Linked DNA regions of Homo sapiens: region 2 is linked to region 1. The links come from fine-mapping of genetic effects on plasma protein levels. Region 1 holds a variant in brackets. A gene starts in the other region. All regions are shown on their forward strands.

The links. PIP is the posterior inclusion probability: the model's chance that the variant is causal. The UK Biobank Pharma Proteomics Project read protein levels with antibody pairs (Olink). The fine-mapping took linkage between variants from a reference panel, not from the people measured, so its PIPs are less certain.
Region 2: it holds the start of BPIFB2, and the variant in region 1 is fine-mapped to the plasma level of the BPIFB2 protein (UK Biobank, PIP 0.94).

What each region holds. Positions count from the first base shown.
Region 1 is chr4:110,001,354-110,004,263 of GRCh38, forward strand. All of the region lies in intron 21 of EGF (epidermal growth factor), which reads left to right. Among named protein-coding and RNA genes, the nearest start is that of EGF, 90 kb to the left of the region's middle. The variant A/G (reference allele first, on the strand shown) is at 1,408.
Region 2 is chr20:33,007,502-33,010,411 of GRCh38, forward strand. It overlaps BPIFB2 (BPI fold containing family B member 2), which reads left to right and starts at 203. Exons shown (of 16, transcript NM_025227.3): 1 at 203-259; 2 at 1,040-1,182. The coding sequence starts at 1,074. RefSeq lists enhancers at 1-583, 584-1,578.

The sequences.
Region 1 (2,910 bases):
TTTTCTACCACCTCTTGAGAGACAAGATTCTTAGGCACAAACTTGACATTTTAATTCAGTAGTCCATCAATAACATTGTAATTTTTAGCCTGGTGTGTAATCAATATCTTGGATATGTGTAGAAAGAATATTGAATGATCAATGGTTCATCCCATTGGATCATTGCCAAAGGGCAGGAAAAAAAAATGGAAACTAGAAACTTAAGTTCATGCGTGCCATAATTATTAAGTGTTTTTTCCTATTTGTTGTGTTATGATATAGTATGTCTTATGTTCTGTTGGCATTTTTCAGAGATCTGGATTGAAAGCTAACGGCAAATTGCTGGCTTTTTAAACTTGGAATTCAAAGACCAGCTCAGCTGAAAGATGACTATAGACTTTACATACATATAAGAGTATCTTCAACCTCAGACTCTCATACTCCAAAAATCAGAAGTGAAAGGACTATTCCTTCAAAAAGAAAGCTCATCAGAACCCTTTCTTTTTCTCTTCACTGAAATGCATCCAGAGTTGTACAATTCTTCCTGAGTGAATCTATGGTTATTTACCTAACAATTCTGATCAGTGTACCTGCTTACCTCTCCGCAAAGTTTCAGCTATGTGCATAACTACGTTTGCACTATAGATCAATTCTGACAAGATCAAATTAAAACTGCTAGTCTAAATGTTGCCATGTCATACTCAACTGTACCAACAAATACAGCTCTAACATTGAGTTTTTAAGTTAGACATGCTAACTGTTTTTCTTTAAAGGGTTAAAATCAGTTATTTCCTCCCTTATACCATTCCTTGCCTGTCTTGTCTAGCTTGTTTGATACCGTTTGTCTTCTGTGTCTCTCAAAGGATTAATTGTTTGTGTGCTGGGTGTGGTGGCTCGTGTCTATAATCCCAGCATTTTGGGAGGCCAAGACAGGCAGATTGCTTGAGCCCAGGAGTTCAAACCAACCTGGGCACCATGGCAAAACCCTGCCTCTACTAAAATTACAAAAAATTACCCAGGCATGGTGGCACACAGCTATAGTACCACCTACTTGGGAGGCTAAGGTGGGAGGATCGCTTGAGCCAGGGAGGCAGTGATTACAGTAAGCCGTGATTGCACCACTGCTCTCCAGCCTGGGTGACAAAGCGAGATTCTGTCTCAAAAACAAAACAAAACAAAAAAGACTAATGTTTGTGAAACTAAATAAATTTTTCAAGTATTCTAATCTTATTAGTTTAAAACATGTGATTTCTTGGAAGGACTCCCTTGTAAGAAAATCAACAGGAAGTATTTCATCACAAAGTATAACTTTGTTTTTTTGTGGGTTTTTTTTTAACTTTTATTTTAGGTTCAGGGGTATATGTAAAGGTTTGTTACACAGGTAAACTTGTGTCACTGGGGTTTGTTGTACAGATTATTTCATCACCC[A/G]GGTATTAAGCCCAGTACCCAACGGTTATGTTTTCTGCTCCTGTTCCTCCTCCCACCCTCCACCCTCAGGTAGCCCCCAGTGTCTGTTGTTCCTTTCTTTGTGTTCCTGAGTTCCCATCATTTAGCTCCCACTTAGAAGTTAGAATATGTGATATTTGGTTTTCTGTTCCTGTGTTAGTTTGCTAAGAATAATAGCCTCCAGCTCCATCCATGTTCCTACAAAAGACATGATCTCATTCCTTTTTATGGTTGCATAGTATTCCATGGTGTGTATGTGCCATATTTTCTTTATCCAGTCTGTCATTGATGGGCATTTAGGTTGATTCCGTGTCTTTGCCATTGCGAACAGTGCTGCTGTGATCATTGACATCCATGTGTCTTTATGGTAGAATGATTTATATTCCTCTGGGTATATACCCAGTAATGGAATTGCTGGGTCAAATGGTAGTTCTGCAGTTAACTCTTTGAAGCATCACCGTACCGCTTTCCATAATGATTGAAATAATTTCCTCTCTCTCCAACAGTGTATAAGTGTTTCCTTTTCTCCAAAATTTCATGAGCATCTTTTTTTTCTTGACTTTTTATTAATAGCCATTCTGACTGGTACAAATTATAACGTTGTACCTTTGCAACTTTGGAATTGTTTATATTAGCCACTTGTTTCAATTTTTTTCCTTGAAGCCTTTGATTAAAACACATAATAACCCACACCATCTCTTGGTACTGTCTGTGATGCCAGATTCACAGCAGCCCCTCCTATCCTTATCACTCTTCCTGGAACGTCCAGGTAGGGCTTTTGACAGAGGGTTGCATTCCTAGAGGCAATTAAGCTGCCTATCTGCCCCAGGACAGTGGCGTTATTGTGGAGTCTCACAGATGCACTGCTCTAGGGGCTACTGCTTTGAGGATGGGGATCCATCTCCATGCTAAATCTCCCCACCCCCACCCCTAGTGAATGACGCCGTGTATAGACTTAGCGTTGAATGTCAAACAAGACAGTACTCTAAAAAACTGGATTTGGAAGCAAGATACCTAGTGTATTTCCTGGCTTAGCCACTATGAGATTTTCTTATCTTGGGTCATCCACTCCTTCTGTCTTTGCCTCTAATTTCTTTATGAGTGAGAGATTGCAGTGGGCCAGTAAGAGCAGCCTAGGCTTTGTGTCATCATGACCGACTTCTTACACTACCCTTGGTAGCTGTGTGCCTTAGGTGAGTCACTGCCATTTCCAAGCCCCAATGGCTTCACTTGTAAATGGAGCTAACATAGTCTGCCTCACACAGTTGCTGAGATATTTTTTCCACAGACTGCCCCACTCCTCCCTGCAAAATTAGTTGTTTTTTCATTGCTATATCATCAGTACTAGGACAGTGCCTGGGGTATAGTTAGTACTCAATAGATACCTGTGAATGAATGAATGCAAGGCTATTCCCCCCAACATACATGGGCATACATACACACACACACACACACACACACACACACACACACAAACACACACAC
Region 2 (2,910 bases), not on the chromosome of region 1:
GCTTGTAGTGGTTGGGAGCTGGGCCTGGCTACTGGCTACGTGGCAGCCCCAGCGCACATGTGGGATGAGACACTTTGGCAAAGGCCATGTTTGCAGGGAAAACACTTGCAACCACAAGCAAACTCGCCGCTCCCTGGGTCCCTTCCCAGTGGACTCTGCACATTGGGAGCCTTATAAAGTAGCCTCTGCATCTGCCTGCCTCGGGCAGAGGAGGGCTACCCTGGGGCTGAGAGTTCACCTGTCTCAGGAACCACCTGAGGTAGGCATGGGGCTGGGCTGGTACACCACTTCCAAGGAGGCTTGGCTTCTCTATCTGTTCAGTGGGGATGCTACCTCCAGCCACCCTCTGCAGAAGGGTCCTTCCACCCCTGGCCTTGCTGTAGGACCTGGGCAAGTGCCGCCATCCTGGGTCTCAGCAGACCCACCTGAGCCGCAGTCCCTCACTCCTGCCTGGCTCCCTCTCCCTGAGTCAGACACAGATCTGCCTATTTGGCCAGACTGAGTCAGGAGAGGATGGGGGCCATGTGAGAGGCCTACTCTTAGGCCATTTACCACCTGGCCAGGAGGGGATGAGGACAGGAGCCACCCTGGGTCCTCCCCTGGCTGAATTTGGTGGACAGCTGGACACCAAGCTGGCTGTCACACGGGGCTGGACTCCGGCATCAGGTGATACAGTCCTGGGCATCTTCTTGGGACAGGAAACTACCCTCAGTCTCCCCGTTTGGGAGTCTCACCATCCTTCTATGCCATGGCTTGGGTCCTGCACCTGGTCCCAGTCCACTGTGTGGCCCTAGGCAAGACCATTTCTTCTCTGGGCATTGCGGGTCATTTCCAGAAGGGACTCCCCCATGATTCCTGATGAAGCAAGCAAGGCAAGGTGATGGTTCCCAATGCAGAGATGCAAAAACTGATGTCTGTGGGCCTGGGGCAGGGCTGGGATCACCAGTCAGGGCTTGTTCCCTCCAGGCTGGAGTGGGGTTCGGGTGGCTCAGGGGTGGGCTGTTTTGGCTGAGCTCCCTGATGCTCATTTCTACCCCAGCCCACAGATCCTGTGGGCAGCGGCCAGGGCAGCCATGGCTTGGGCAAGTAGGCTGGGCCTGCTGCTGGCACTGCTGCTGCCCGTGGTCGGTGCCTCCACGCCAGGCACCGTGGTCCGACTCAACAAGGCAGCATTGAGCTACGGTAAGCGGTGTGTTACCCAGTGAGTGTCTGTGAGCCTGTACATGCGTGTGCAATCCTAAGTGTGTGTGCGTAGCTGTGAACTCAAAAGGCCCATGAGGACCCAGATTTTAATTGGAAGTTGTGTCCCTGGCACCCAGACAGTGCCTGACACATGGCGCTGCTCAACAAATGCTTATTACATAAATGCGTGAGGGGGGAGTACGTCATGTGGCCAGTGTGCAAGTGTGCACATGTGACTTGCTCACATGCTTTGGTGATGTGGGCATAGGTCGGTTTGAGGGGCTATTTTTACCTGTGTGTGTCTACTTATGAGTTTGAAATTTCATAGAGCTGTGCCCACGTGTGTACTTAAGTGTCGGGGAGGGTGCAAGCCCATGATGCTGCCTGGATGTGTGTGCACAGGTACGGCTGTTCACCCTGGGTGTACACGTTTGCGTATGTGGTGTGTGCACGCACGTGTGTTCTTGGGAGAGGTCTGTCTAGCACCGTGATGCAAGGAGTGTTCTAAAGTTATATCCCTTCTGAGCTCAGCGTGAGAGAACCATCCGCTCTCTGGGTCCCACTTGTGCGAGGGCTCTGTCTTACGGCTGTGCTGCTAGATCCTTCCAAGTCTTGCCCCAATCCCCTAAGGAGGGCACAATGAAGAAACTTAGCCCCAGGGAGGGACAGACATTGCCAAGGTCCAGGACGCCAGCACAAACATGTTTATTCACCTCGAGTTGCCTCCCGGTGAGAATTTGGTTTCCCACCAAAGCCAGGAGATCAGAAGCGGTTTCCCCCAAGGCCAAACTCAGATTACAGTGTGAGAAAGTCAGGTCAGACAGTAGATGGGACCTTCAGTGGCCCAGGACATGAAGCAGTGGCTCAGGGAAGTAGCAGGTTTCCCCCACCCCTGGGTAAACACAGCCTTCCGGGACCTCATATCCGGGCTGATGGGCAGGCAATGAAAGGGGTCAGTGATCCGTGCCAGAGCATGACATGGAGCCATTCATGGATGCCTGCAGGTAGGGCCATGAGGCCCGCGCCCTCCGCCGCCTTCCTGCCCTCTGCCCATCCTGTGCAAGCCTCCTTTGTCCCCAGGGAGCCCTCCCCAGCTTGCCTGCCTGTGTTTGTTTTTGGCAGAAATCTGGCTGGAGGCCCACGCTGGACGCATTGCTCCCCAGGCTGGGCTGAGTGGCTACTTCCAGTGTCCTCCCCACCCCATCCTGCAAGCCCCAGAGTTCAAACCCTGCGTCAAGGGAGCACTGTAGATGGAGTCTGAGGTCTGGGTGTGAGTTCCAGCTCAGCTGCAGATGGTTAGGTGGGAGAGGGGTGCTGGGAAACATGGAAACCACCGCCTTTATGCTTCTTGTTGGGGGAGACTAAGAACCAGAGAGGTGCAGGGACTCCTCAAGTTCCCACAGTGAGTCTGAGCAGTGGGCAGGCCTCTTGACTCCTCATTTGAAGCTCCCTTCCAGCACCATCACCTCTTATTCTAATTCAACTCCTGCTTAATTAGCACCTCTCTGGGGCTCAGCAGCACAGGTGAGTGAGGATGCCCAGAGGCTCGGGAGCCAGGTCCCTCGGTCCAAAGCCAGCTTTCCCTGGCCAGGTGCCCTCACCTCTCTGTAAACTGGGCACGATAACAGGAAAAGTAAAGCACTCAGAACAGGGCCTGGCACTACAGGATCACAACATAAACGATTGCCGCTATTATTACAAAAATAAATAGCAATGGTAGAAGCTAGC